4 separate regions of the Homo sapiens genome follow, and all the other regions are linked to region 2. The links come from fine-mapping of genetic effects on gene expression. A gene starts in region 2. Each other region holds a variant in brackets. All regions are shown on one strand. Distances are from middle to middle. Region 1 overlaps ETV6 (ETS variant transcription factor 6). Region 2 holds the start of ETV6 (ETS variant transcription factor 6). Region 3 overlaps ETV6 (ETS variant transcription factor 6). Region 4 overlaps ETV6 (ETS variant transcription factor 6).

Evidence for each region. PIP is the estimated chance that this variant, and not a neighbour inherited with it, causes the effect.
Region 1: its variant is the best candidate, but not a certain one, in a credible set for the expression of ETV6 in whole blood (TOPMed, PIP 0.52).
Region 3: its variant is the best candidate, but not a certain one, in a credible set for the expression of ETV6 in whole blood (INTERVAL, PIP 0.83).
Region 4: its variant is the best candidate, but not a certain one, in a credible set for the expression of ETV6 in whole blood (INTERVAL, PIP 0.89).

What each region holds. Positions count from the first base shown.
Region 1 is chr12:11,804,739-11,812,590 of GRCh38, forward strand. All of the region lies in intron 2 of ETV6 (ETS variant transcription factor 6), which reads left to right. Among named protein-coding and RNA genes, the nearest start is that of ETV6, 160 kb to the left of the region's middle. RefSeq lists an enhancer at 7,608-7,852. The variant C/T (reference allele first, on the strand shown) is at 3,170.
Region 2 is chr12:11,645,788-11,653,639 of GRCh38, forward strand. It overlaps ETV6 (ETS variant transcription factor 6), which reads left to right and starts at 3,887. Exons shown (of 8, transcript NM_001987.5): 1 at 3,887-4,373. The coding sequence starts at 4,341. RefSeq lists enhancers at 2,790-2,889, 6,927-7,036, 7,367-7,416 and silencers at 3,070-3,309, 3,600-3,809, 4,020-4,069, 4,080-4,239.
Region 3 is chr12:11,889,188-11,897,039 of GRCh38, forward strand. ETV6 (ETS variant transcription factor 6) reads left to right here. Exons shown (of 8, transcript NM_001987.5): 8 at 1,754-6,190. The coding sequence ends at 1,859. Among named protein-coding and RNA genes, the nearest start is that of BCL2L14, 180 kb to the right of the region's middle. The variant C/T (reference allele first, on the strand shown) is at 3,829.
Region 4 is chr12:11,825,652-11,833,503 of GRCh38, forward strand. The region is part of intron 2 of ETV6 (ETS variant transcription factor 6); the gene reads left to right. Among named protein-coding and RNA genes, the nearest start is that of ETV6, 180 kb to the left of the region's middle. RefSeq lists an enhancer at 4,632-4,831 and a silencer at 6,659-6,728. The variant A/G (reference allele first, on the strand shown) is at 3,671.

The DNA of each region.
Region 1 (7,852 bases), 160 kb after region 2:
CTGGATGGTGACCCTTAGGTATCTATTCAAAATGGCCATTCTTGTGCACAGCTGGGGTATGATGCCAGTGGGTCCACCTGTAGGGTAATTGGATGGGCCTGGCTGTCTCATGGGAGACTCCAGAGTCTTTTCTTTTGGGAAGGCAAGTTTGTCCAAAAAGAAATCCTGTGGGCTCCTCCTTAGAAAGAGTCAATATATGATGGCACTTGAGCTTTTACCATGAAGATTTCCACTGAGTTCCCCTATATTCCAGAGCTGCTCACCCTTGCTCCCTCCTGAACTTGGCGTTCTCAGATTCATCCTGATTCCAGCAAGGGAAATGTCCTTTCATCTGCAAGGAGGTGCAGGTTGCTGGGCTGGGGGAGGGTGGAATACAGCCATGCCACAGATGCTTTATTAGTCTTCTCTGTTCCCTGCCTGCCTTCAGAGGCACTTGGAACCCCCAGTTTCTGAGGTTTTATGAAGTTCTGGTAGGAAAACGAGTTTGTTTATTGGTATCTCCCCCTGCAGGCAGATTGAGTTAAGATTTTCTGCTCAGCTGAGTCAGATACCAATTGTCCGTCTGTTCCAGCTTCCAAAATTTTGTGCACCTCCCTCAACTGCCATTGTTTCCTCTCCCATTCTGTTGTCTTGTGGGTTTGTACCTTTTTTATTCCTCTATCTGGTTTAGTGGGACGTCAGACAGGAGCAGGGATAGACAAGATATGTCTCATCAATGTAGTTACATGTGGAGGTAAAAGCATTGATGTAGCAGTACAGGATGCTTTGAAAGCATAAAATACAGAAATCTGGTCTGGTGTGTCGCATACATTTAAGAGGAGACTTGAAAGCTAAGTAGGAGTTAATTGGGCAAAGAAGAAGGTAGGATTATTTCTGGGGAGGGGAACAGAGCCTGTGAAGGCCCTGAGACTGGAAGAGGATTTGTTCTACAGGGAATGGAAAGCCCAGCCCAACTGGCATTCATTGAATTTGCTGTGGAAAAGCAGAGTGACACATTGCTTTGGTGAGGATTGCAGATGGTGAGGTAGAACAAGACAGTCACGTTAAGGATTTTGATCTTTATCCTAAGAGCAACAAGCATCCGTGTCTGTGTTACCTCAGTAACCTTGGACCTCGTAAACTCTGGGTTCTTTTATAAACCAGGCACAGTAATATCTACCTCACAGAGCTGTGTGCATTGCATGACATCATATACACACTATATTGACTTAAGACTGTCATATTTGTTTGCTCAACTCATGGATATGAAGGGCAGACTGTATACCTTGTCAGGTACTTTTTTCTTTTTATTGTATCCCATGGGGGAAATGGATGGTAGATTGGTGGAGGTGGCTAGAATTGTAAAGAAAAATATGAAATTCACATGAAGGCTGGAGTTACTCATATGACAACAACAGCTTATGGGGCCCAATTCTATTGCTCTTGCGTCTGTCACACAGTTGAGGTTTTGGAATGAACTACGTATGCCATCCTTGTTGGACAGTGACAAGTCACTGTAGCCCCCTAGGAGAAGAACAGTATAATCAAGATGTCAGGTTGAGGAATAATCTTTGTGATCAACTGAGTGAAAGGTACAAAGTAAGAAACAATTGAGAGGCATTGCTCTGGGCCCAAAAGTCTAGTAACAGGCAATTAGAGGTTAAAGGATAAGCATTTGATAGTGTTCTAGCTATACTGCAAAATGAATGCTGCATGAAGGCTAACTGAGAAGCTTATCAGTTGGTAGTTGGGAACTAAAGAGGAAGCAGGCACCAAGGAAAGATGGAAAGTTCTACACACCTTTGTTAGTTACACATGGAGGTAAATGCATTGATGATGAATCTGCCATTTTTAGGTTTTCATGTTTAAAAAGTTTCCTGACAATGTGTCTAGCAATGTGCTAGACACTGTAGATAATATACAATAAAATATTAAAGAGGCGGCTCGTCCTCAAGGAACTTTCAAGCATTCATACATTTCTGTTTGATTGTAACATATTTATTATTTTAAAGAACTGGCCAGAGAGTTGCATGTTCTGTGTAGGGATAAATAGCAAGTTTCAGGCCCCTGCATTTATTGGCACTTACGTACATGGTAGTCCTCACACCTTTGCCGGACAGCACCAAAAATCCTGCGGAGCTCAACTCTGTGACCTCACCCTTTGAGCCTGGAAATCAGCATGAACTCATGATCTGACAATCCCGAACAAGCTAAGCATTTCTTAAAAGAAAGCAGTGACTTTTAATAGGTCTCACTGATGGTGTTCCACCGATTAAATCAGTCAAACAGAATTGTCACATTGAAGATTATCTTGGGTTTCTAGAATTCATTCTAGGTTTTAAAGATGCAGACAGATTCTGAGGGTCACAAACGTCAGTTTGCCAAGTATGTTTAGGCTGTAAAGTTATCCATGAAAAGACCGTGTGGTTTGCATGAGATTGATTGTGATCGGATGTAACTACATTGCTTTTTACAGCTCAGTAGAAACCACTTTCAATTGCAAATTGTAGCAGAAGCAGGCGTCTACTTAATTTTGATCTTAAAGAATTTCAAAGAGAATAAATGCACACTAAATAGTGGTGGATTTTGGTAGTATACGCCAACATCACTTTTTATTTAACACATGCAGAAATGTGTACTGGTAGAGAAAATTGGTAGAGTGAATTAAAGTACAGACAGATCCACATTGACTTTAAATGAATACATGCACGGTCAGAAAACGGTAACCCTGGGCAGGAATCTTTAAGTTTTCAGGGCTCATTAGACAGTGAGCAGGTGAGGCTCAAGGCTGAGTTTGCAACTGTGCTGTGAAAACTCAAAAATGAAAGTTTTTTTCATTTCTGAGCCTGTTGAAAAGTGGGTAAGAAGGGAAAGGGCAGTCTCATAATAAAATAATATGTAAAGGCTAACCAAATAACCCACTTTAGTCTTTACTTACTGGCAGGCAGCAACATGTCCTATTTACAGAGGGAGGCTTTACCTAAGTGGTTATATGTAAATGAACCACCTTTTCAATGAAACAGGATGCACCTGTCTAGAGGTGTCTGTTACTAGAGCAATGGATGTTTGATTGGACTGACAAATTTTATTTCCTTTTTGGAAAAAAGAATGTAGGTGGTATCAAATCACCCTTTCTCCTGGTAACAATAGGAATTACTTCTTGAACTTGAGAAACCAGTAGTTGCTTGAC[C/T]TATGTTTTTTGCATTTAGCATAGTCTTCTAAAGTAGTAGGAGCATACGTTTTTGTCTTTAATTCCCTGCAGACCCCTTCCCCAATGATCATCAGCAATACATCCACCCATAAATCAATGAAATCATAAAAAAGAAACATAAAATTCACTTGAAAAAGAATACCTACAAGGCATTCCTAGAATTCTCAATGTAAGTCATTTTTTGCCAGCAAAGCTAATTGTTCTCAAATATTTGATAACAAGGATGGCATACGTAGTTCATTCCAAAACCTCAACTGTGTGACAGACGCAAGGGCAGTAGAATTGAGCCCCATAAGCTGTTGTTGTCATGTGAGTAACTCCAGCCTTCATGTGAATTTCATATTTTTCTTTACAATTCTAGCCACCTCCACCAATCTACCATCCATTTCCCCCATGGGATACAATAAAAAGAAAAAAGTACCTGACAAGGTATACAGTCTGCCCTTCATATCCGTGAGTTGCACATCCGTGATTCCATCCAGCCACAGATAGAAAATATTCAGAAAAACAAAAAACAAAAAAAAAAAACCCACAAATGCAACAATAAAAAAATACAGACTTTCAGAATAGCATATAACAACTATTTAGATAGCATTTACATTGTATTCGTTACAAGTAATCTAGAGATGATTTAAAATATACAGGAGGATGCACATAGGTTATATGCAAATATACACCATTTTATATAAGGGATTTGAGCATCCTTGGATTTTGGTATCTGGGCGGGGGGTCCTGGAGCCAATCCCTTGTGTATGCAGAGGAATGACTGTACTGGAAAGCAAAGTAAAGCTACACCAAAGAGGGTAATAGCAGGCTATAAAGTACTGAGAGAAACTAAGAGAAGAAAGTGAGGTACCTCTGACAAAGGAGTGCTTGGAAGAGAAAGGATGAATAGAAAAATGGGATTTCAGGGAATTCATTGATGACAGGATGACCTACTTAAAAATGACAAGGGCCATGTGTGGTGGCTCACACCTGTAATCCCAGCACTTTGGGAGGCCAAGGTGGGCAGATCACTTGAGGTCAGGAGTTGGAGACGAGCCTGGCCAACACGGCAAAACCCTATCTCTACAAAAAAATACAAAAATTAGCTGGGTGTGATGGCACGCGCCTGTAGTCCCAGCTTCTTGGGAGGCATGAGGTGGGAGAATGACCTGCGCTCAGGAGGTTAAGGCTGTGGTGAGCCGTGATCGTGCCACTGCACTCCAGCCTGGGTGACACAGGGAGACCCTGTGTCAAAAAAAAAAAAGATAGGAAGTGAGCAAAAGAGAGGTCATAGATAATGGCATGATGAAACAGAGGAAAAAAAGGATAAGAAGGAGGAAGAAAAAATGTACAATAAAACGAGAAGGAAGGATGCAAAATGAATATAGGAAAAACAAGAGAACTGAAGACAAGAGGAAAAAAGGAGATGGTAGAAGGGAGGAATGAAAGTAAGTAAAATAGGAATGAAGTTCAAGATCTATTTAGCCATAGCTAAAGGAACGTATTATCAGCTATTGATTTCCTCTTCTAATAAAGAGGAGAATGATATGGATAGTCCAGAATAATGGATCATTTGCAAAACATTAATGTGTCTTGACTTAAGGTACATGTTTATAATTACCTCGAACTGTATATTTGTCTTCTTCCATGTGTGGTTTTAAATTATTTTACCAAAATGGGGAAGCCAGGAGATACATACTTGATTCAGTAAAACCAGCTTTTTATTCGTAGTTTACTTCCTGCTGCATCCTTTTTTCGGCTGAGAGGGATCAATGTCTGCAGGTGTCCCTTAATCCATAATTAAACCATATGCACATCTACCCTCCCAGTTTCCCTGCCCACCATAAAACCTTCATCTTGGCTATTGCTTGGAAAATGGGGAGGGAATAGAGCTTCTGCTTTTTTTTTTTTTTTTTTTTTTTTTTGGAGAGAGTCTTGCTGTGTCACCCAGGCTGGAGTGCAGTGGCGTGATCTCAGCTCACTGCAACTTCCGCCTCCCAGATTCAAGCAATTCTCCTGCCTCAGCCTCCTGAGTAGCTGGGACTACAGGCACGCACCACAACGCCCAGCTAATTTTTTGTATTTTTAGGAGAGACAGGGTTTCACCATGTTAGCTAGGATGGTCTCAGTCTCCTGACCTCGTGATCCGCCCACTTCAACCTCCCAAAGTGCTGGGATTACAGGCGTGAGCCACCGCACCTGGCTGGAATGGAGCATTTTACTTGAGACCTCTGTGAGCTGGTCCTGAGTATGAGTAGTGAATTCCAACCCACTTTTCTCCTAATCCCTGTCGTGTCCTAGAGTGAGAATATACAGAGGGGTTGGAAGTGGGTTTATGTTCATGGGCTTTCTAGATGGACTTTCAAGTCCAAGTAGAAGTCCAACTTGAGAGCTCGTGTAGAAAGCCCTTGAATGTAAACCCGTGAAGAAAAGCACTTCCTTATTTCAGAAAGAGCACAAAAGACCAGCAATCCAAAGGCATTTCGAAGACCTTGAAAGAGCTGGGAGTGGCTTAGGTATGGAGGGTGCATGTGTGAGTACAAATGGCCCCTCAGCTCAGAACCAAGCATCTGTGTGCCATGATCCATGGTTCCTAAATATCATGGAGGGCAAAAAGTATAAATGTGAATTAATGCAAGAGAAACCACACTGAAATAAAAAATACCTGTGGTCTCTTGAGATTCAAGTTGGCAAAATCCAATCTAAAAGATGTCTGACTATCACAATTAGTGAAGTCCACAGGTCAGATTTTCCTCTCTGTTCCTGATTAGGATTAACCTGGAAAGGTGGATTGGGTCCATCTTTAATAATAACTACACCTTCTGAAAGATTTGAAACTATTATTATCTCTTTGTTTGCTGCTGCTTTCATAGATTTATGGTAGGACTTGGGGTTAGATGGATGATCCAGGTCACCTATTCCAGCCTCACACTCTGCCTCTATTCCAAATATGACATCACTGAGCGATGGCCACCCACCTTCCCTTGGATACCTCTAACAATGGGAATCTCACTGTTTCACAGGCAGCTCTTTTTTTTTTAAACACCTCCAATTCCAATTTTTAAACACCTCCAATGTCCAGAAAGTTCTTTAAACTCTTAAATACATGACATTTATTAAAACAAAGCCTCAAACCACTTTCAGAGTGGTGGTACAGCAAATAATTGATTCTTTTCAGGGTTTTTCCCCCCTGTGTTTTTTGTCTTCTCTAACTCAAATCATTGCCCGGATATTGCTTATAACAGGAGCTCAGCCTCAACCAGTCTTTCTGCTTTTACCACATGCTCTAGTGGAATCTAGATTACCGGACTCATTTCGAATCTAACTAAAAATGAGAAATGCTCTGTTTATATAAAGCTTGGCAATCAATAGGAAAAGGAAAGGCTGTTTAGCAAAGGCCAGTGATAATTCCAAGAAGCAGTGTCTTTTGGAATATGCTATGGTGACCTGGCCACTGCAGCTATCTGCTTATCTGTCTGGTTTCAGATTTCCAGAAAGGACTCGCTGCCTTCGAAACACTTCCCAGCCCTTCCTTGGGTGCCTGGATTTCTACCATTAGCAGTTTACTCCTTGAGCATGGATTTTTGCAGAAAGACATGTAGACCAGGGAGATGGCTCATTAAGCTCTTGGTGGTCATTTCACCAGAGCATTTAGCATTTTTAAATCCCTTCCTGGATGCTTGTTTTAGTGATGATGGTGGTGGTGAGATGAAGCAGGGATGTGTAGATCATGAAGGGATGGGAAAGGGGATGATTTGGTTGGAACGAAGCAAAATAACATTTCTGAGTGCCTGCTAAGGTCCAGCACTTTTCACACGTAAAATTTTCACAACAATCCCTGTGAGTTGGGATCCAGTTTCTACAGATGAGGAAATGAAGACAGGAGACTAGATGACCTGACCAGGTCCTAGGCCAGTCAGGAACAGAGCTGGGATTTAAACCAGAGCTGCCTGGTCCAAAACCTGTGCTGGTCCTGCTATTTTATGACACCTAGAAGGGAAAAGGGCAGAGAACTGGAAAGCTGAGATGGAATCACCTACTTAAGAATTTTGCAGAAGGCTAACCCTGTCTAAAAGCATCGCTTTGCAATCAGACACATGTGGCAGTAAAAATGTCCCAATGCTAACTCATTTTAAGCCTTGGTTTTAGTCTACCTAAAATTTATAGAACACTGTAAAATATGCTACATGTAATAAGATATTTATTAGGAGTCTTCTTGCACTTGTTCAGAATGCTTTTTATTATGTTTCTGCTCATTATTGTAGATATTCTCCCATTTTGGAGAAATTGACCGCGTGCACACTCTTCACTGGAGTTTTGCACAAATCTTACCAGAAAACTGGTGAAGATCAGTCCTGAGGCCCCTTCCGCCTCTAATTCCTTGCAGTATTTTGGCTGTACTATGTGCTGTTACACTAGATCACAATAAGCAGCTGCCAGTTTCCTCACAGGTTCCCTTGGGGAAGGATATGGGAATAATTCTTAGGAACCCCCCACAAATTATAGCAACCAATGCAGTAAAACCCCTTTAGCTCACTCCTCCCCCTGTGCTCACTCACATACTCAAATATATTTAGTGCTTTCCTTCCTCTCACTCCGACACTTTTGGGAGAGCCCTGGGGGTGGTTGAGTACCTTGTCCTTGGGTGGATTTTCTTGTTTTCTGAGACTGGCTGCC
Region 2 (7,852 bases):
TGATTTTTTAGCAAAATATGAAGTCAGAAGAGGAATGACATGTTTAAAGTGCTGAAAGAAAAGAAAATGTCAACATAAAATTTTACGTACAGTAAAAATACCCTTCAAAAGTGAACATGAACTAAAGACATTTAGAGGCAGACAAAAGCTGAGAGACTTCTCCAACAAACAGCACACAGGCTATGCTGAGTGAAGTTCTTGAGGCCAAAGGGAAGATACCAGATGGAAAACCAGATCTGCAAAAAGGAATAAAAAAGTACTAGAAAGGATAAATATCTGGGCAAATTAAAAAGAGACATACTTTAATACATTCATTATATGCATATATTTACAAATTTCTAAATACCATAAAAATACAATGTAAAATGAATTTTATAACATATAGAAGTAAAATATAACACAACAATACAGAGGATGGGAGAGGGATAAATGGAATTACATTGTAACTTTTTTACAGATTCATAAAATAGAATAATATTATTTAAAGGTAGCCTGTGATAATAACATACGCAAATTGTAATTTCTAAAGCAACCACCATATTTAACATAAAGAAGAAAATCTAAAAAGACAATCTAGTAATTTAAATGGAATATGAAAGAAAAAAATCCAATTTACCCATAAGTTCTCAGAAAACAAGGAACAGAGAAACAAGCGACAAATGGAAATGAATGAATGAGAAAAACTTCCCTCAACCACTGTTATTGAACACTGAATGGCTCTGCAAATAAGCTTTTACTACAGACTCAATAATGTTTCTTTATGAATTTAACCTAAAACTACAAGGCAAAATAGAGCTTATATGCAAAACTTAAACTGCAGTAAAATCATTTTGACACAACTAACATTGTTTGAATCACAAATAATGTCAAGCTGTTTTACACACTTCTCATGCTGTCAAAAGTTAAAACAAGAAGCAAGATCTCCATTCCAACACAAATTTGCAGCAGTTATGTTTTTCTGAACTCAAACTACAGTACCAACAGTGTTTTCTGAATTTCAATGCAAGTGCAAAGGAAATTTTCATATTTAAAATTTACTTAACTGTGCAACTGAGAAGCTTCCATTTAACCTTCAACTGGAAGTGATTAATCTGCAATGTAATGGCATGCTAAAGGGGAAATATCAAGAGAATTTATAGAATTCTAATAGAATTTTAGAAATGCCTTCTAAGCAATGAATACACTCAAGTAAAATCATGTGCTCATGGGTTGGTATCAGTATTTGGCGGTATCTGTCTGGGTAGAAAGACATTTCAAAAATGAAGTACATAAAATCTCATAAAAAATCAGCATTAATAGATGAACATCTGCAGTCAATTTTTATGAAAGAACACTTTGAACACCAAGTGAAATGTTACTTTCCCCCCAAAAGAATTCCATGCCTTTCATTATTATACCTGTATTAAAATTGCTATTATTACACTTTGAATTGACAAAATAAAAAACTGTGGACTTTTTTTTCTTCGTGTTATATAAGTATCTACCTGACATTCTCAATTTTGTCTCTTGGCCCACAAAGACTAAGGCATTTACAGCTGGGCCCTTTACAGAGATTGGCAACCCCTGGTCTAAATGTAGTTTTTGCTACAGTTGTCAACTATGTTTTTTGCTTTGGAACCACAAACATTCTACTTCAAACTACTACTTCTATGAATCACTTGTAGACGTTGAGGAGGAGTTAGGAAGAAAAGTCGAGAACTAATTTAGTCCTGGGGTTAAATAATAATTGTAGCCAACTTGAATTGAGCACATATATTGTGCAGCTCTCTGCTAAGGAGGCATTTGTATATATTTTCTTATTTAATAAGATAATCTTATGAGCTAGGTACTATTTCTCCCCATTTTACAGAAGCTTAGTGACTGTGTTGTCAGGGATCACATTGCTAAGTGATGTGGAAGACATAACCTAGCAATGGGACATCTAAACCAATGTCTGCAACATCAATTAAGAAAAGCAAAAGAGGCCGGGCGCGGTGGCTCACGCCTGTAATCCCAGCAATTTGGGAGGCCGAAGTGGGTGGATCACGAGGTCAGGAGATTGAGACCACGGTGAAACCCCGTCTCTACTAAAAATACAAAAAAGATTAGCCGGGCGCGGTGGCGGGCACCTGTAGTCCCAGCTACTCGGGAGGCTGAAGCAGGAGAATGACGTGAACCCGGGAGGCGGAGCTTCCAGTGAGCCGATATCGTACCACTGCACTCCAGCCTGGGCGACATAGCAGACTCCGTCTTAAAAAAAAAAAAAAAAAAGCAAAAGAATACAGAAAATTGTTAAAGGGGAGAAGGGGGTGGTCAAAGGCAGAGGAGTCGGTGTGGACAAGACAGAGATCTCTTGGAGAGAGGGCAGGACTACCAGTTGACAAAACCTGTTCAGGTTCCTGGAGGCTCACAACCACCAGTTCCCATCATCCCAGCAACAGCACTCTTTCCCACCCTAGCCTCGTTCGTAATGATCTGATCAATGTGTGAACAAAAATATTGTGTGTACAAGTCTCAACACATTTGATAATGTGAAGAGGTGAAGGAAAGTGGGTAGGAAAAATCTGTAGGGTGGGGAGACTCGGGGAAATGTGTCCTGGTCCAGTGCAGGTAACATATATGGGTATATATGCGTATATACATATTTATACCATATTTAATATATTACTCTATTAAGAAATTATAACAAATTTCCTTTTACATTACACATCCACATATTAAACCCCCAATATGTGCTAACAAGGTTAGAATTTAAGTATAATGATAATGTTCTCAGTTTTTTGTGGTGGACACTTTAAGAGAGTGTAAATAATAATAAAAATAATAGAGTGATCAGATCACTTGTGCTCAGGGCTAGACCCTTCAGCCCCAACGGCCTTAACCCCCCTCAACTGCTTTTCCAACCAAATATTCCTCCCCCTGCAGGATCCCAGGGCCATCCAATCAACCGGCCAATGACGGTTTCAGAGAAGCGGTCCTGGGGAGGGGTATTATCTGCAGGAACACGTCCTGCCAACTTTGTAGTCGAGTCACCTATTTCGGTTGGTAGCGGCCGCTATTTCTTTAAAAGGGCAGTGGATTTCGAAACAGGAGGGGGAGGTCAGGAAAAGGAACTCAGCTGCCTTTGATAACTGCCCTGCAGCCTTCCCTTCCCGGAGCGCGTGCTCGGCTCGGGAAGCGCCCGCGGCCGCCGCATCCCCGAGCGGGCGCGTGGCGCCACCTCTTTCCGGGGCGCCCACCTTCCCCGGGAATCCCCCCGCCCGACGGTCCCCCAGCGTCTGCGGCGCGGCCGCCCCGGCTTTGTCTCCGGCGTCGCGCTCGGGCGCCCGCTCTCCCCACATTTCCCCGTGTGCAGGCTGTAACCCGATCTCCCATTTCCTGGTGGATTCTCTTAAAGAGGCAGCGGTCGAGAAGCAGAACAAAGGCTATTGTTTTATTTCCTCCTTCGGATTCCGCGTCCTAACCGGAATGGCCCTTCATAGATAATTACTTTCGTTGCATCTGCGCTTAGTGAAACGTTTCAAAACCCTTGTGCACATCGATGTATCCAAGAGACGGAGCCAGGGGAGGTGGGAGGAGTTTAATAAAACCTGTTTTGTGGTGTCTGGGGCCACAATGTAACGTTTTTTAAAGGTGTCTTCCTTAAGCCCGGAAATTGGCTCGGCCAGCGGGAGGTCTCGCGGCGTGGAGGGCGGGCGCCCGCACCGGGGGCCGGCCTGGGGGGCTGCGCCGCTCGCCCCGCTCGCAGCCGCGGCCCCACGCGGCCCCGCTACCCGGGTTTCCTCCGCCCGCGCCCCCGCGGCCGCCCCTCCCCCGCGCAGCTTTTATTTCCCCGATGCCGGGCTGTAACCCGAGCTTTTATTTCCTGGTGGCTCCTTTAAGAGGCAGAGCTCAGTGCTGGGAATTCACGTCAGTTTCTGCACTGAAACTCTCAAGATCAATGAGCAAAGAGCTTTCTCAGTTCTGCCTTTCAGTTTCTCTCTTCCAGGAAGGAAAACATTCGAGAGAGCGAGGGAGAGCCGCGGGAGGGCGGGGGGCGGGGGCGCCGGCTGCGGGTGGGAGGAGAGACCGGGAGGCCGGCCGGGCTGCGTCCCGGGTCCCCGCGCCGCGCCGCGACCTGCAGACCCCGCCGCCGCGCTCGGGCCCGTCTCCCACGCCCCCGCCGCCCCGCGCGCCCAACTCCGCCGGCCGCCCCGCCCCGCCCCGCGCGCTCCAGACCCCCGGGGCGGCTGCCGGGAGAGATGCTGGAAGAAACTTCTTAAATGACCGCGTCTGGCTGGCCGTGGAGCCTTTCTGGGTTGGGGAGAGGAAAGGAAAGTGGAAAAAACCTGAGAACTTCCTGATCTCTCTCGCTGTGAGACATGTCTGAGACTCCTGCTCAGTGTAGCATTAAGGTAAAAATCTTCTCCCCTCCTTCTACGTGGTGGAAACCCTGAGCTGCACCGGCCAGGGCAGTCGTGCTGGGCTCCTCAGAGCAGGCTGTTGCAGTTGCTCTGTTCGCAGGAAATTATTTGGGGCGAGAGGGAAAGAGATGCAGCTCGCGGTGGCTGCTGTACCCTTTAGCGTAACCTTGCTACTCCCCCCCACCGCCGAGCCCCTGCCGGCTCCTCGGCCCCCACCCCCTTGCTTTTTGACAATGAAATGCCGGTCACAATTGGTCAGAGCAACCCGGATTGTCTCCAGAACCGTAAAACACCCCCGTAATTAGTGCGCTTAAAAAAAAAAAAAACAAAAAACAAAAAAAAAAAACCTGCTCCCTATTCCTACACCCAACATGTGACTGAAATATAACTTTTGTTCCCGAGGGGTGGTCGTCTTAGAAAAAAAGTTGTTCAGTTTCCACTGCGATAGAATCTTTTTATTTTTTTAAAGGACTCTCTGGGTCTGATCAGACAGGATTTTTTTCCCCCTCGTCTGATTGTAATTGCAAGCGCTGTCGGAGAGACAGTCCTGGTGTCAGCTTTTCCTAGGCATTGCACAATGAATTTTTTTTTAAAACCAAGGTGAATAAAGTTGCTGAATAGTTATTTTACTCCGATCCATATGAAAGTTGAGCAATCCCAAAGTAGAAAACTCCTGTGATGGAGGGAGAGGAAGAACTAAGCAACCAGGCAAAATGACCTTCTGTGTTTGACAGTGCAGAGAGGCTATCTAAGCAGCACTCTGTAAATGCAGGGCGGTAGATGTTTGTAAACACACTGCTGGGCTACCCAGTAGTTGTGTGTATGCATGTCTATATATCTGTAAAGACTGTGGTGCTGCGGTTTGTTGCTTCTAAAAAGTTGTTGTAAAGTTTGCCACCATTGGGAGGCAGGATGATTTATCCATCTACCCGTGTTATTTTTCCCATCGCTGCATTTATTGTACACTTTATTCATTTCGCTGTTCCACCAGTACCCAGGTAGAAAGCCTTCCGCTCTTGTGAGAGGCTGAAGCTGCTGAAGTTTGTTTTTGGTTTGGCCTATTTAATGTGTGTTCACTGAATGGACACTACAGCAACAATGAACAAATAACCTGTTTTCTTCGTCTGTGGGGAGTTAGAAAAACCCTTCCTGGTTTAACACTGCCTTTCAATTAGAGTCTGTGTAGGGGAAACGCAGTAGTTCATCATACGTGCTTACTAGGTTTTTTATAATTAGAATCACATTTTGGTGTTTCTTATCAGAAAAGATATTCATGGGTTTGAGGATAGGCTAATGTGAAATCAAAAGGTGGTTTGGGCTTCTTTGTTTTTGCCTCACAAAAATGCCTAATGGAACTTTTAGGCTTTTGTGTTTGTACATAACTGGAGGTAGCAGTATGTATGTCTGTGGGCATGGGGCGTGCCACACTAAAGAACTTAGGGTACTTTGATATTAATACTTCAAAACCAGTTTCTTTTGCGGTATAAATTAGATTCTACACAGAGTTCAGGAAAATCCTGCGGTATAGATAATCTAATTTATTTGACGCTTCATAACATAGAGGTAACTAAATAGTAGGATATTCAATAAATAAATTGTATTTGGCTCAGTGGCAATAAACCCGACATCAGGAAAATCTGCCAACTACAGATCAGTAACTTTAGGGCAAAAACAACAAAAAACAATGCTTTCTGTGACGTTTCTTGATCCTCTTCTATACTGCATCCCCACCGTTTTGATGGGCTTATGGTGGTGTGCTGGCTGCAGACTGCTACTGAGTGGTTTGTTTCATTGTGCTCCAGTCGGAAAAAGAGTACAACAGTCCCTTGCCTTACTCACATACAGAACCAATCCCAAGCAAAACGCGTTCTTAAATGCAACATGAAAATTGTCTGTAATTTGCATATCATTTTTTTCCTTATTGCTTACAACTCAGTTCTTTCAGGGTGCCTCTTTTCATTACTGTGTACTTCTATGTAATTAAAATAGATTTAATGTTCTTTACCAGAAAGGAAAGAATCACTTTTATTTTGGATCGTTCTTTATGGAACGAGTATGTATTTGCTTAGACTGCATGTGTCTAGGTGAACGTATGTGAAGAGTATCTTTCCATGGAGTTTGTTTAATTCAGTGTTCCAATAATAAGCACTAGAGATCAAGGACTGGGATTATTCCAGGTCATCTGAAATGTTCTGGTGATGTGTGCTGCGTTTCATTTAGTCCTTGGGATGTGGTACGGTGACTGCATAATAAAAAATGTTTGCTGGTAACCCACAAGCAAGTTGCTTGCTTCTAGAGTCCAGTAAACAATATGCTTTTCTGTGTAGTGAAGAACGAATGTCAGAGGTTTTCAAGGATGAGCTGATGAACCTGATATACCGAACTCCTGTGACACAAAAGGCTCTCACTGTGGAGAGGTTTTTCCCAGTCCTCCTCTCCACTCCTGAAACCGTCCTCACTTGCTTTCATTCCTTACAAGTAGCGGGTCAGCAGGCAGACAGTTCCTCAGCGGCTGGTGAGATGCAGCCACAGAGGGAAGTACTTTGTTTATTTCTGAGCAGTGCCTGCTCTGCTAGAAAAGAGTAGTGTCCGATTTGGGTGGAGTTTCCAAGGTGAAAGTTTCTGAATTGGTCAATCAGTGACGCCTTTGTAAAGATGGCTCATGTGGTGGTCGCTCGCAATGAATGCCTGATAAGGGCTTTTCTGTTTCTTTTGCACTGTGTAAGTTTGCTCCCATCGCCTGGGGAAGTTAATATCAGACACACACTTTTTACGGTAGAAGAGAGGTTGACTACTCCAAGGGCACTGAAACTCTCACTGAGCCTTATTGTTTCTCTACACGCGACTTGCAGAAAGCAGGAGTGCTCGAGCACTCCTGGGGGGGTCTGTCCTACAACCCTTGAAGGTTGTGGCACTGTTGTCATGGAAGTTCAAATGCTTCAATTCCTGACCATTTGGGGTCGTTTAAATGGAAGGAAAGGATCAACTCTCTATAAAAAGTCAAATTGTTTTAAAGAGGATTGCCTGGCTGACTGTGCTGGTCACAGGAAGAAGGAAGAGGCTGTCTTTTCCATCATCAGCCTTCACCTTCAAGTCACCTCTTCAGTTCTAAGTTTGACCAAGTTGCAGCGGAAGGTGGTTGTGGCCTAGCAGACACGGTCCCTTGTCAGGCTTGGCACAGCTTGTTAGTGGGCCAGGACTAACCAGAATCCAAAAACGAGTCACACAGTGTCTCTAGTCCCCTCCTTCCCTGCTGTCCGTATCAGTCAGCTTTCATAGCAGAAGGAAATCTGGTTTTTAAAATTTTGCTACTAACTGGGAGACTCTTTCGAGCTCCCCTTCTGGACTCTGGGCTCCTTGGGTTTAGTGATGATTATCTTGGTGTCCTAGTAGTTAGCTTGGCAGCTGGCATAGAAATATTTCTCAGTAATGTTTGCTGATGTGAATGAAGTGAGAGGTGGGAGGAGGCC
Region 3 (7,852 bases), 240 kb after region 2:
AGAAATTTTAGTTAGGGGATAAAAGAGGAGAAAAACTGCAGATGCTACAGATCATACTGCTGGAGAAGTTTGCCAGTAATGAGCAGGAAAAGCAGTAGTAGCCAGAAGATTGATAGGCTTCCAATAAAAGATTTTCAGTAAGAGAAAGGAATAGTGCTATTAGTGAGGGAGAGATTAGTCCATTTTGAGGAAATGAATGTTAGAAGCCAGACTTGCCACAAAATGAAGGTTTCTTGGTATAAGACCTAGTATGTAATCAAGTGAGGTGTTGAATTGTAGATACTCTTTACAAGATGTTTGAGTGTTGAAGAAGATGGAGGTTTAAGTGTTGAAATCATGGACTAGTGCCATTAAGCAGCTCTTTGATGAGGAGACAGAACACAAAGAATGAGTAGGACTCAACTCGTGAGAAGAGTCAGGAGGGCTCCAGATAAGGGAAAAGCTAAAGATACATGGGAGAGCATGCGCCATGATTTATACAAGAGCCAAGACCGCTAGACTGCATTGGGTTCATACTGATGAACAGTGGAAAATAAGAGCTTCCTAGGTAAAGATGGCAGAAAGACCCGATGAGCAGAGCAAAGGATGCACCTTTGACTTGATGAGTGGTCATTTTAGGCTTTTGCATGTGGAGGAATGAGAGAAAATGTAAGCTCTAAGATAGTGGCGCAGGGCAGAGTATATGGGGAGAGAAAGGTGTGCAGGCACAGAAGGGGACTGGAACGGGTGCTCCTACAGTGTAGGTGGAACATCTGCAACCAGGCTGCCTTCCTGAGCCATGTAAATTATGGTCAAAACATGTCACTGATGTCACTTCCAGTTTAACCCATTGAACAGGAAGATGAGGCTTGCTGTACACCCCAGTTGCAAAGGTAGACAGACTAAAGAGGGTTCATTGCTGGCATTTTGGGTGAATCAGTGATAACATTGTAAAAGATTTTTTTTTTTTTTTTTTTGCCCTTCCAATTTTCCAGAAGCTCCACTAAGTTGTCCTATTGTCAGCATTTTTCACTTAACATTTAACTATATCCTTTGAAATTTAAGTAAGTTTTGAATACCATTTCCTGGGCTCACAGTCTGGAATGGAAGTGGATATACAGCTCTCATGAGTCTGTAAAATCTAATTCTGTAAAAGAAAGAACATATATACATGGTCTGGACCAAGGCTTTCTCGTGTGGTCATGCATTAATGCACCACGTGATCCCAAAGGGTGCTCACTACGTCACAGACAGCCTAGACTTTTTTTTTTTTTTCCAATAATTAGGATTTCACTTTGTCACCCAAGTTAGAGTGCAGTAGCATGATCATAGCTGACTGCAGCCTTAACCTCCTGAGCTTAAGGGATTCTCCCACCTCAGCCTCCCAAGTAGCTAGGACTACAGGTGCACACCACCGTACCCAGATTTTTTTTTTTTTGGTAGAGGTGGGGTCTCGCTATGTTGCCCAAGCTGGTCTCAAACTCCTAGGTTCAAGTTATCTTCCCAACTTGGCCTCCCAAAGCACTAGGATTATATGCATGAGCTACCATGCCTGGCCCTAGTCTTTTTAAATAAGCATTTTACCACTTTTTAGACAGTCAGAGAAAGGAGTACCTTTTCCTAATTTGCACTAAGTTAACATTAATCTCGGGGTTCAGTAGCTCTCCAGCTGTATAAGATGATGGAGTCTTTCTTTATATACAGGCTAGAGTTCAGAGTGAAGACAGCTTTAGGAAAATGGAATCTCTTACCTCCTCCACTTCTTCTTCCAAAGGTTTATGAAAACCCCAGATGAAATCATGAGTGGCCGAACAGACCGTCTGGAGCACCTAGAGTCCCAGGAGCTGGATGAACAAATATACCAAGAAGATGAATGCTGAAGGAACCAACAGTCCACCTCAGCGGGCCAGCAGCCCAGGGAACCCCTGCCCACCAGGATTGCTGGAAGTGTGACGGAGCAGGCGGGCTGAGGAGAGTGGAAAAGGAAGCGACCCAGAAATGGCAGGGACACTTCTCTTGCAGACCAAGAGGGACCCTGGAGCACCTTAGACAAACTACCCAGCACAGGCGGGGCTGGAATTCTGGCGGAGGGCATGAGCCTGGGACTCCATGTCACGTTTCCTTCTGATTTGGAATCTCTCCATCTGTAATTCCTCACCCTCACCCTTCCACCGTTGTTAGTATCATGGTGTTTTTGTTTTTGTTTTTGTTTTAAGAACCTGCAGTTTGACTCTTCATCGTTCATCTAGGGGAAGACATCTGATGTTGTTTTCCTATGGAAATATATATCTATTATATATATATTTTTTGCAAATCTCACAAAGTGCGGCAAGCCCAGCTGGTCAGGAAAGAGAATACTTGCAGAGGGGTTCAGGTTCCTCTTTTTCCTGCCACGTGGATCAGGTCTGTTCCTGTTACTGTTGGGTCTTGGCTGAAAAAAAAAAATGCTTTTAAAAAAGATAAAATGAAAAGGAGAGCTCTCTTTTTCTCTCTCTTGCTCTGTTCTTCCCTTGGTCCCCTCTGTCCTCCCGCCCTGCCTGCAGTTGAGATTCAGATGCCTTCTGACAGAGTTCAGCCTCTTGGAGAGTCTTGGGGATTGTTGGCACCTAAACAGAATCAGTGACCCGGGTGCTTTGTGGCCAGCAGCACAGAATCAAACCCGCATCCCAGCATTGGGCCACCCATCTGAGGGAGGCCAAAATCATCACAGATGCTGCTGTGCTGCAGACAGATACATGCTAGTCCAGAGAGCCGCCCCTGAGATGGCTGTGAGAACCATGTGTCTAAGGCGTAAGATAAGGATGGAAGGCTGTCCAAGTTATTTGGAAGGCCTCGGCAGCTTGGGATTAGCTTGGGAGCGCAGCGCTGCAAAGTGGAAAATATGAAAAGACCACACAGGCCCAGCAGTCCAGAAACTGGGCAAAAATATTCTGCAGTGGGGATTTATTTTTCCAAAGCAGGTAACAGAGGCTAGTGAGAAAGAAAAGCTCCTCTCTGCTCCATTCCAAAGGCCATCTTGTGGTCAGTTTCATGCCCTCACCTGATTTTTTTTTTTTTTTTTTTTTTTCAATTCCTAACCTTTTTTAAAGTTTCCTGGTCTCCACTGGACACAGAGCTTTGGAGACGGAGGATCCCAGAGGGCAGTCTCAGTTGCAATCAGTGTGTGCCCAGCCTGGGCAGACAGGAAATTCCTCGGATACATTATTTTTTCTTTCTTTCATAGCTGTGTCTCAGAAAGGACCCATTTGTGGCTCTTTTTCACCTCAAAATAAGATCGATGGTATCTTGTAAAATGAGGGTAGTGCCACTTCTTAGTATTTTTGAAAGCTGTTTTAGATTTTTTTTTTTTTTCCTTTTCTAGCCATCTAAATTGACTCTTCCAATATAGGTCTCAGAAATCCAATATTTGGAGTACAATTTCTTTTAATCCAGATTACACCTGCCTTACAAAGCACCCCCTCCTTGTTCCCCTCTGTTTCCTCTACTCAGTTGGGGGAGAAACTCACAGCTCCTCCGGGATACATATGTGCCCTCAGCAGCAGCTCCCAGGTGAAGTTACCAGACCCCTGGGCTTCTCCCCAGCTTTTTCTGAGTTGAGTCAGACATGTAGAGTTTGGGTCACACAGGCAAGAGGAATTTTCCCTCGGCCTTACTGACAAGGACACCAACCTAGGGTGCAAACAGATGGACTATGGTTCAAGGACACTGGAATTGAGGAGCTGATCAAGGCTCTCTTCAGCCTTGCTCTGTCCCTGCCTCTTATCAGAGCACAGGTAGACACACGGGCATAGCCAGCCCACTCCTACTGTCACAGGCGCCCCACCATTCAACCTTCCGGGAGGTCAGGGA[C/T]CTTCTATATGAGGCGAGTGGGTCTCAGTCTGCTTGAATGGTGATGAGATTCTGCTGGATCTCAGCACGCTGCAGGTGTCTTTTGAGAGCATTCAGTAGGACATGGTGATCCCTATTTCAGCCTCTAAGATGACTGGTATTCTATCTGAAATGCAGAGATTAAGCCAAATACCTGATGTATTGTGAAAGCCACTGATTTTAAGAATGGAGAGAAAGGGATTTTTTACTGCATCCCTCTGTATGAATATGAAATCAGAGACCAGGGCATGATGTTGCTAGGATTAGAGCCTCTCAGTCTGGCCTCTTCACCCAAGTGCAAGAACTCAGTCTCTTACTGTTCAAAGAATCTTAACAGTTGAATTATGGAGGGAAATTCCCTTTTGCCCCAAGCATTTCTATATTTAAAGCAATATCCCAGGAGAATATGTTAGACTTAGGATGATACCTTCAGCCACTTGAAGAAGAAATAGAAGGCGCTCATTCCAATATAGTCTTTATTTCCCATTCAGATACAGGTTGAGCATCCCTAATCTGAACAGTTAAAACCCCCAAATGCCCCAAAATCCAAACCTTCCTGAACGCTATGACACCATGAGTGGAAAATTCCACACCTAACAAACACATTTGCTTTCTTATGGTTCAATGTACACAAACTGTTTTATATAGAAAATGATTTCAAATATCATAAAATTACCTTCAGGCTATGTGTATAAAGTATATATGAGCCATAAATGAATTTTGTGTTTAGACTTTGTGTCCATCCCCAAGATCTCTCATTTTATATATATATATATATATATATATATATATATATATATATATATATACACACACACACACATACACAAATATTCCAGGATACAAAAAAAAACATTTAAAAATCCGAGACCCAGAACACTTCTGGTCCCAAGCATTTCAGATAAGGGATATCAATCTGTACTACCAATAAGGATTTCGTAATTCCCCTAACTGCAAATGTCCTCTTCATTTGTTCTTTATGAGAAAACCCGGGTAGTGCCAGCACCTGGATACAGTATTTACACCCTGCAGACCCTAAAGATTTCAGATTCAGTTAGCAAACCTTGATGAAGCACCTGCTGGACACTGAGGGACCCAAAGCTCAATCAGCCATAATCCCTGCTTTCAGAGTTTATATTGTACCTGCCTAATCCACCCGGCGTGACTCATTTCAACACTAAGTACTAGGGGTGTTGTCAGGAGACAAATCTGAAGTCAGGAGAGGAAAATGCAAAGGAGCCCTGCCGTGTGATGGATGTGCATTCTCACTTGGGTCTTGAAGTTCTCATTCCTACATCTCAAGCTAGCCAGGCAGTCTCCTCTCTATCAGAAGAAAGCACTGGTAATTGGCTAGACTGGCTATGTTGAAGGTAACATGAACTCTAAGATCTTGACCCAGGGCGACTTGGTTTTGCTTAAGGTGGCATCACCAATGTTCCAAATCCTTTAGGGAGATGAGGGTATCCCCACAGAAAAAGAGGAATAATAGACCAATGGATTTTCTCCTTTCACCAGTATGTTTGGAACCCTCTGATCCAATGTCTTTTGATACTGATCTCTTGTCCAAATGAGAATGTCGCTTTAGCTGAAATTCAAATGGCTGTGACAATTTACCGAAATGATGAAGTAACCACCATTCCCACCTTTCACTGCCTAGGCTCCAAGTCTGAATACATTTTTGAAATAGGAACTCCCTTTTGCAAAAAAGAAACCTGGGTGTCAGGGAGGTGAAGTGACTTGCCCTAGGAGCAGACAGCATGCCAAGAATGGAATTAGGCTCAGGATCCAGCCTGGGCTCACCCTGTGTGGCTCATTCCCACCCAGGAAACTGAAGATAAAAGATTTGGGAAAACACACCAAGAAAAAGGGGCAGTTTTCTTTGCCCAAGCATTTGGTGCTAGTTAGAGGCTGTTCACTCTCTCCTGCTCCTCTTCGGAGTAGAAATAAAGGCTGTGACACAAGGAAGCCAGTGGGGTGGGAGGGAGGCACCATAATCCCTCCCTAAAACCCACAGAAGACTAACCTGATACTCTTTTGACCCAACTGCATCAACACTAAACAGCTGCAGACCCCCTGAATCTTTCACACATGCCAAGTGAACATTCTTGATGATTTCTCTTTGTGACCGCAACCACCTGCAAACCAGAACGACTCTAGAATTTCCTTCCCCGCCCCCCTTTTTGTTTAGTTTCTAATCTCTTGTTTATGAGGTGTGGGGTTTATAAGGGACTGAATCAAATGAATGTAACAAAAAAGAAAAAAAAAACAAAAAAAAATGCCTTTTCTCAGGGCCAGTGAGTTGCAAATAATTTTTAAAGAAAAGCCTATAATTACATCATCTCAATAAATTTTTTATAAAAAAAAAAAAACCATGAAGTCCAGAGTCTCTGTTTTTAATAATATGAAATGGAGTCAGACAAGGTGCTCCGATGAGGTAAATCCTGTCTCCACTCAATTATGGTATAAAGGGCAATCATGGTTTTTCTCTGGCAGCAAGTCTCCGCTGCAGGGCAGTCTGCAGGCGATCTTTAGACAAGTGGTACCGGAAAGGTCAGAGTGAACCATTCCAAGCTGAGCAGCTGCCACAGGTGGAAGAATTACCAAGAGGAACCGTGATCAGAGATGCTTGGGTCCCATGCTGTGGTGAAGGTTTATTAGCTCACTGAGAACTTAGCAATGCCAGGTCCTCACACAATAGAATTGCCCCTTAAATCTGCTGAGATCAGAGGTCTAAGCCTACCAGGTGATGAAGGCGTAAGGGCTGGGATAGATCCTATGACTAAATACAGGACTGTAATGACCTAGAAGGTCATCACACAGCTCAGAGCCAGCCCACATGCTCAGAATGTCCCAGCCAACCTGACCAACAGAGCCACCCACCAACCAGTGGGCACTTGGGAGTTCAAGATCAAACATTCTGCACTTGACCAGAACTATCTGCCATCAGAAGTGGGTGGAAACAAGGGGAAGAATGGAAGAGGAAGCAAATGCATTGCTGTTGAGCAAATTGGGCGGAGGTTCAAAATGTCTAAGAAATCAGCAGTCTCAGAAAATGTTCTTAGTTTACTTTTGTCTTTAGGTTAACCCAGTTACTCTGTATCCCCTGAGAATGATTGCTGAAATTTGGCCCTATATTCTGTATGATCAGAGCACAGTATCAAATAAGGGTCTAGATATTTTTTTTGTGGTGCTAAAAATGCATTCGAAGCTACTATTTCTATAATGCAGCATTAGAGAACTTGCTAGAAATGCAAATTATCAGTTCCCACCCCATAAACTGAATCAGAAACTTTGGAGCTGGGACCCAGCAGTATGTTTTAACAAGCACTCTGGGTGATTCTGATGCACACAAAAGTCTGAGAGTCACTGCTACCAATTTCTTCATCTTAGTATGAAAGAGAGCTTGTAGCAATTTAAACAATAAACTCAAAATAATTGATGACAACTAATTTGCATCAATAGTACTCACACACAATAACGCTGCATTTTCCTAATGGTAGATATACTGTGGAATGAGGCTAAGTGGACACAGAATCACATACCAAAGTCATCGTCTTGTTTTCTCCAAACCTTTTAAGCAATCAGTTTGCTGTAAAGATGAGCTGTTTTAAAGGGTAACTCTTAACAGCTGACCTGCCCTTGCAAATTAGAGCACAGCAATTTATCCACTTATGCCCACTTATCTGCCTAACCAGCCTGATCTAAAAAGAAAAATAAAAGGATTATTCTCATCTGCTAACTGACCTTGGCTGTCTGTCCCCGGAATTATTAAACAGAGCCTGGATGAGCATTTAGCCAGGGCATTTGCAGAGGACTCTAGAACCACTGGACTAGACCAGTGCTTCTCAAACCTGAAAGTGCTTATGAATCATCAGATCTCAGGGAAAAAAGCAGATTTTGCTTCAGTAGTATCTTGGGAAGTCTGGACAGAAGATCTGTTCTTCTACCCTACTCTCTGGGTGGGGCTTGAGGTGCTGCACTTTTTTTTTTTTTTTTTTTTTTTTTT
Region 4 (7,852 bases), 180 kb after region 2:
GATTAGGACACGGACATTTCTATTTGGCAGCCAACATTCAGCCATCTCCAGTCACTGAGCTAGTAAGTGACAAAAACAGGATTTGAATTTCGTTGTTTCATTTTATTATAACGTGGTTAAGAGAGATTTTAAATATTTCCATTAAGTTAGCAATTCTTGCCAACAACAGTAGAAAGCATGCCTTTTTTTTTTTTTTTTTTTTTAAAGTCAGAGCCTCATTCTGTCACCCAGGCTGGAGTGCAGTGGTATAATCATAGCTCACTGCAGCCACTCCTAGGCTGAAGCAATTCTCCCACCTCAACCTTCTGAGTAGCTGGGACTTCAGGCATGCACTACCACACCTGGCTAATTTATTTTGTTTTTCAAGGAGATGGGGCTCTTGCTATGTTGCCCAGGCTGGTCTCGAACTCCTGGCCTCAAGCAGTCCTCTCACATTGGCTTCCCAAAGTGCTGAGATTACAAGTGTGAGCCACAGGACCTGGCCAACAGCATGCTTTTACAAATAGTAGGGTAGCAGGAGGCCAGCCTGCAGACCGCCCAGAGACCTCACCCCATCTTACGCTCTGCCCAACCTCAGGGGAGCATTTTTGCACTTGGTGGATTAGCATTACTTGCTCCATCCATGATGAGCCACTCATGCTCTTCACAGATTTTCCAGACTCCCATGTCAAAGTTAAAAAACAGACATCGGCCTCTTTCCAGAACTCAGAATATTCACATCTATATTGTTAACACTCATACCTTTTCCAGCACAGAATGAAAAGCACCTTTGAAGAATCGTAAGCCATGAATGATGACGGGCCGAAGGGAGTGAGGGCTCCTACCTCTTGTCACTCCTACCATCCTGCCTCCAGGACCCCTGCCACCTACTTGGGAGTCTGCCCTTAAAACTCAAGGGTCACCTGACTCATTCCTCCCCACTCATTCATCTGACTACCCACCAAAGCTAAGTGTGAACAGCCTGTATTGATTTATCATTTTCCTTTTGCCTGCTTCCTCTGGTACAGAGATCTTCATGCTTTCATCCAAACGAATGAATAATGTAAAATCCCAGGTGGGGTGACAGAGCCAAGGAGAAAAGTGTTCTGCAGCAAGGGAGGGCCTCCCAGTATGAGCCTTGGAGTCTCAGATAAGCCCAGGGACAAAGCATGAGACATCCAGTTACATATCTGTGGCCCTGGAAGGGGAGACGGGGTTCGCTTTGTGGTGGTGTTTAGCTTTCCTGACTCCAAGTGACCATCTTAAGCCAGGGGATTAGTAACCTTTACAACTCTAATACTAGGGAATATATTAATAACTGGTGAGAAAAAAGATTACAGCTTTTTTATTGATAGGTCTATAAAAGCCATTTCCGTATGAATGTCCTCAGAAAGGAGGAATAAGGGGATGAGATAGAATAGAATAGAGAGAAGTCTGTCTCACACACACACACACACACACACACACACACACACACACACAAATGCAACACAATTATCTTTAAATAGAAGTTGCTTCTCCAAGTTTGTTTTTTTTTGTTTGTTTGTTTCATGAGGCGTCAGCAACGCTGTTAAAATGATTTCATCCTGCCTGTGTGTCACAGCAGTCTGCCCCGCGAAATGCTGAATCAGCAGCAGCCCAGACAGCCTTTCGGTGGAGGGTAGATTCGACACCCAAAGGCAACCAACCGGGCCTTTGAAAGCACTTGGAAGCACTCTCCAAAGAGCCAGGGAAGAGGACAAGGAAGAAGGGGGTGCAGTGGAATTCTCCTTAAAAAACAGCATGTTCTAGAAAAGCCATGCTTTGGAGGTGCTGTAGGTCAGATTTGCCTTTGGGTCCCTATGTGTATTTTCTGAGGTCTGTTCATGTAAAAGTTCAACACCTCTTTCGCACTCCCTTCTCCCAGCCCCCGCGCCCTGCCCCCACACCTCCTGTCCACCTCCACCTCCTCCTCCTGGAATTCAGTGATTATCAGGACTGTCTCCATCCTGAGAAGAGGCTTTTTAAAATTTCGCAGGAGAATAGAGACACCCGAGAGGGCTGGGAACAGGCACAGCTGAGCCACACAAAGCCAAGCCTCCTCCATGCAAGTGACGGACAGATCAGGTCCCAGTTCAGAATGAGAATGAGTTTTACTCTGGTTACACTTTGCACAGGAATGTTCTGCAGACTGTGCCGGGCACCAGAGATGGTCCGTGTGCGGTTTAAAAGAGCAGGAGGGGAAAGAATTTTCATCCCTCTTTATTCAGGCACCCTCAGGAGAGTATCCATGTTCTGTGAATCATGCAAATCCTGCAGGATCTTTATGTTCTCTGTACCCCATCCATTTCTGCTGAGGATTACAAACATTCTTGCACCAACTTTCCTCCAGCAGTTTCGATTTCTCAATAAATCTGTTTGAGGAACATTTCAACTCTTAATATCTATTTTCCTACTTTTTTTTTCTTCTTAAACTCAGGCTTCTTTGTAAGCATACATATCAGTAAGTTTGATAATAAAAATGACCTTTCTGCCCTGCAGTATAGGAAATGCTGCCTTAATGCCTCTTTGCTTTAGAAACTCATCCTTGTATAGTATCTCTCCTTGCATAGCCAAGTTGCCTCATTGTACGTAAATTAAGGTTATTTGCAGTGATTGACCCTAACTACTATGAAGAAAAACTTTCAATATGTTAGCAATGATGTCTATAATAACTGAAGAAGGGACATTCCCTATTTAAGGTCAGGACTGTGCGTTTCAAATAAAGAAATGACAGCTCAAACATTTCATTGTACCCCCACTTCTAAGTGAGAAGAGGGCACCCTTCGTGTCTCTCTTTTCTGTTTTTCTCCCTGAAATATCAGGAGAGACATATATCTCTCTTAAACCTGATTTGGTTTTCGCATTACCTCACAGGTACATATTGTCAGAACTATTTGCATACACGAGACTAAAAAAAATACTAAACGGATTCTCCAGGGATCCATGGATAAACTTGAGGTAGTCTATAAGCTTTGAAATCACAAGCAAATATTTGTGTCCATGTGCCTGTGCATTTTGAAGGGGGGTTTGTTTATGAACTCTGGCTGAATTCTCAAAGAATCCTGTACCTTCTTCCTAACGCTGAGAAGTACTTGCTCTAATCTCTTCCCCACTCCCTTTTTGCTGTCCCCTCCCCATTATCTTTTTTCTTTTTGATATGGACTTTAATTAAAATGTTGATGCTTACGTCACCATACATTTTCTGCATTAATTTTGATTTTTAAAATATTGCGTTACATGACTTAATCTTGATTACTGAAACTTTTTAAAGGTACCCCTTAAATTTTGCTCCTGGGGCAAATGTCTTACTTGCCTCAGCCTAGCCTGGGGCCTGAGCGGGCACCTCCTTCAGCCTTCTTTCCTCCAACCTCTCCCTGATCCAGGCTGTTTTCCGCAACCCCACCTGAGCCATTTTCCCAGCCTGCAAGATGACAATTCAGTCCCCTCCTCAAAGCACTGTACTGGGCCTCATAGCTCCTGCCAGAGCCGTCATGCACCTTCCAAGAATGCTTGCTCCAGCTTCTGCAGCTCCAGGGAGCTGCTGAAAGTATTTTGGTCTTCTGGAGACACGGGACAAAGTACAACTCATCTACTATCCAGTCCTTGTCCTACCCAACCCCCCAAAATGCATTGAGCACTTGCTCTGTACCAGGCACTGTGCAACATCTCT[A/G]TAGGGATCACCTCATTTCATGCTCACATTTGCCCTAAGAGGTAAGTACTATTCTGGACTCCATCTTACCGCTGGAGAAACAGATTCAGACGCGTAACTAACCCAGCGCTAGTAAGTGGTGCAGCCGGTGTTTTAACCCAGGACAATTTGACTGCGAAACCCAAGGTCTGATCTAAAATGCTACATGGCTCTCACCACATTGGGCTTGCTACCCAGAAGCAAAAATGAGAAGAACTCTTCTAAGTCACGTTTGTGAGGCTGAGCGGCAAGCTCTGGGTCAGTTTTGCTGTCAACAGGTTTTCTGCTAAAAACCCGTTTGTAGCTAAAACTAGATAAAAGTCAGAAAAATCCACAAAATGAAGTTTATAAGAAAAAACATCATTCGAGGGAATTGACTGTGACTTTGGATCTGAACATGAACATAGAGTGTTCTTGTTCTTGGACTTTGGGCTGAAAGACATGAGTATAACCTTCCGACCTCCACTTGGAAACTTAGTGCTGAGATACAGGCTAACCTTGAGGACAGAAATAGGAAATGTTTTGGAACTTCCAATTCCCTAGTGACAGGATTTGTTTGCAGAAAGCAGCTTTGGTCAGATAGCACATTCAAGATTACAGGCAGACCCAGAGGAGTGAGATGTGGAGCTTGTCAGAATGCATCCAAGGCTGGCCTGGGGGTTTTGAGCAGATTTGCAGAGAGCAGGCCGGTGGGGAAGGGAAAGGAGGCAGAAAAGTCTCCGGAAAAGTGCCTCTGGGAAGCAGCTTGAAGGGCTCTGAGGACACTTGGTTTTCTTTTGAAGGGCAGAGTACACAGGGAAGAACTCTAAGTAAACCCTGCCCTCGGCAAGCAGAGGTCAGAAGGTGCTCTGTGGGCACCGAGCAGTATTCGGGATCTGCAGCTAGACCAGGCCTGCCATGAGAAGTTGAGTTTATGGTTTATTATTCCTCATTCCCTTAACATTTTTACAGTGCATTTTAGAGTGCAAGGGGCTTTTACATCCATTATTTCCTTTAACCCAGGGGAAGTTCACTGGGTAATACAGAAAGCCTGGAGCTGGAGTTTTGGTCTTAGGTTCATTGTGACCTTGGGAAAGTCCCTCGATTTCTGAACTTCAGTTTCTTCTGAAAATACAGTTGTGCCAGCTTTAGCTCCCTCGCAGAATAGATGATGGCATGACATGGATGCGGAAGCATCTGGTAATGTTTTGAACTGCACAGAGCTGAGTGTCCTGACCATCAAAGCCAGAGCTGGAGTAAGTGATCAGATGTGTCGGGGAGGAGAGGGGTGCCAATCACAGACTGCAGAGCTGGCTCAGATGTGGACTGCCTAGGAATGGAAATCTTTGGCTGTACAGTCTGGCATTAAACCTGGGGACTGTTATGTGCCAGGCACCGTGTGCAAATCACTGCAAAATCCCCTTCAGCTACATGCATGGACATGTTAACTCTTAACACATGTACCTAACAATTCACAATTTCATCTCCCAGAAGGTGGAAGATGCATTGAGGAGCATTGCTAATTTGCACTCAAATCTGACAAATGAGGAATTGTCTGGAAAAGTAGAAATGATAGCAGAGGGTGAGAATAAAAACATGATTTTAGGATTGGGGAAGGGAAATGAGAGACAAGAACAGATGTGTTTTCTTGACTTAAGACAAATTTTTAAAATGTAGGGAAAAGTATTTATGATCTCATGATCTGAATGCTGAGACACAACTCAGAGTCATTTGGGCTGCTCTTGAAAATGAAATCCTGACTTATCAACTGCATATGACCCTTATTGGAATAAGAAGGAAGGGAGACAACTAAAGAAACTGATGAGGCGATATTGGGGATATTCTCTGATTAGCTCAATTTTTAAATAGTTTGTGTGTGTGTGTGTCTGTGTCTGTGTGTGTCTGTGTGTGTGTTTGTTTGTTTTGAAATAGAGTCTCACTCTGTTGCCCAGGCTGGAGTGCAGTGGTGCAATCTCGGCTCACTGCAAACTCCACCTCTTGGGTTCAAGCAATTCTCTTGCCTCAGCTTCCCAAGTAGCTGGGATTACAGGCGCCTGCCACCATGCCCAGCTAATTTTTGTATTTCAGTAGAGACAGTGTTTCACCGTGTTGGCCAGGCTGGTCTCAAACTCCTGACCTCAAGCAATCCACCGGCCTTGGCCTCCCAAAGTGCTGGGATTACAGGTGTGAGCCACCACACCCAGCCCTTAAATAGTTTTTTAAATATAAAAGTAAAACATGCTTAATAGAGAATGAGAAATAAGAAAGAAAAAAGGAAAAGGAGACAGGGAATATCACCTACAATTTTACTGAGTGTCAATTCTTTGAATATTTTTACGTTTCATTGTATTTTTCTATGCATTGAGATTATTACATATGTACACATACTATTTTTCAATATGAATACATACTCTTCATCATGTTACTGGCTGCATTAATTTTCTATCATAGATATTGTCAGTAACTATTACTTATTTCCTTATTGCTGTTCCTAGTTTTTCATTATTAAAAATAACACTGCAATAGACATCTTTGTGCATGAAAGATTCTTCCACATACTAAGTTATTTCTTTAAGGTAGATTCTGAGAAGTTAACATTTACAGGGTTCTTAAAATATCACTAAGTTGTTTGCCAGAGAGATGATGCCAATTTATCTTCTCACTGTTTTGTGAGTACCAGTCTAATGAGCTCCGATTTTTAAAAAGATGTATATAATGGATGAAAAAGCAACTTAATGAAAAGAAACATATAAAGGAGAGTTTCTGAGCTCTAGAATTTTAAAACGTAAGTGAGCTGAAAACCATGGAATACGCTTAAGAAAACAATAAATGTGGGCAGCAGGATAAGAATAAGCATGATGTCAGCCTGCTGATGGGGTTGGATGGGGTAACATCAGCAAATGGCAAAGAAACCAAAACTGTTCAACTTCTTTCTCTCTCCCATGAAGGAGAATGATTGTCAGACTGAAACAGGTAGTGCAAACATTGACAGAAGGGAATTGAAGCCTGAGATGGGTGAATTGATTGTAAAAGCAAACTAAGTTCTGAATAAATGCAAGGCTCTTGGCCCGGACAAATGACATCCCAGGGTCGAGAACTCAGAGGGGTGAAAGATAAGCCACTGGCAGTGATCCTTCAGGGTTGTGGGAAATGGAAGCTGTACTAAAAGAATAGGAACTGTTGGTAACCTGATTTTAGGAAGAGAAGCTGGGGAAAATGTGGGTACGAAATAAAACAGCTAACCTGATGGAACTTCCAGATAAAATTCAGGACAGATTTTCAAACATACATGTTACGAGTGGAAGACATTATCACTTTGGAGCCAGCCATCTGCTCCTCATCCTCTCTCCTCATCTTCTTTAATAAGGTTGCTCTAAGTGTTGTAGTTGCTGTATTTCAGGATATCAGGAAGGCGTTTCGTTGAATTTCTGATGTTGCTTTCATGGATGAGCTTGGAAAATGTCCAAAAACCAGAGTATTTAGATGGATTGATCATTGAACAACTCTTCCCAAAAGGAGTCAATAACTTGATCAGTATCCGTCCAAAAGGAGGTGACTGGTGTGTCACCAGGGTACTCCCATCTCAGCCCTATACGATCTGCACTTTGTCAGTAACCTGTGGAGGTGACAGATGCTTAGCAAAGCCACAGATGACGTGAAATTACAGAGTATAGATGCTAGAAATCGATGGAAATCTGGAGAAGACTGCAGCAGGCTGGGATGATGGTTAAAAATAATAAGATAAAATGTAATATCAATTAATATACATTCTTACAGTTGGGTTCCAAGTGCTAGCTATATATGTTCAGGTAGGGTGAGATTATAAAGGTGATTATAACAATAACAGTACAAAAGCAATAGCTAATGTTTTTTAAGTGATTGCTCTATGCCAGATATTGGCCTGTGTGTTTCATATCATCATCATGTGTATAATTTTACTCTACACTAGTTTTATGTCATCTGAAAATTGTATAAGTACATTATCTATGATTCAATGATATTTAATTCACAGGATGAAAGTTGTCCTCATTTTTCAGTTGACACCAGCAAGACACAGAGAGGTTAAGTAACTTGTACAAGGTCACACAGCTGGGAAATAGAGGTTCCATGCTTGTGCTCAGTGCCTGCATGCTGAACTACCGTGAAACTTTTTCTTTTTAAAATTTAGTCATAAATTTAATTTGA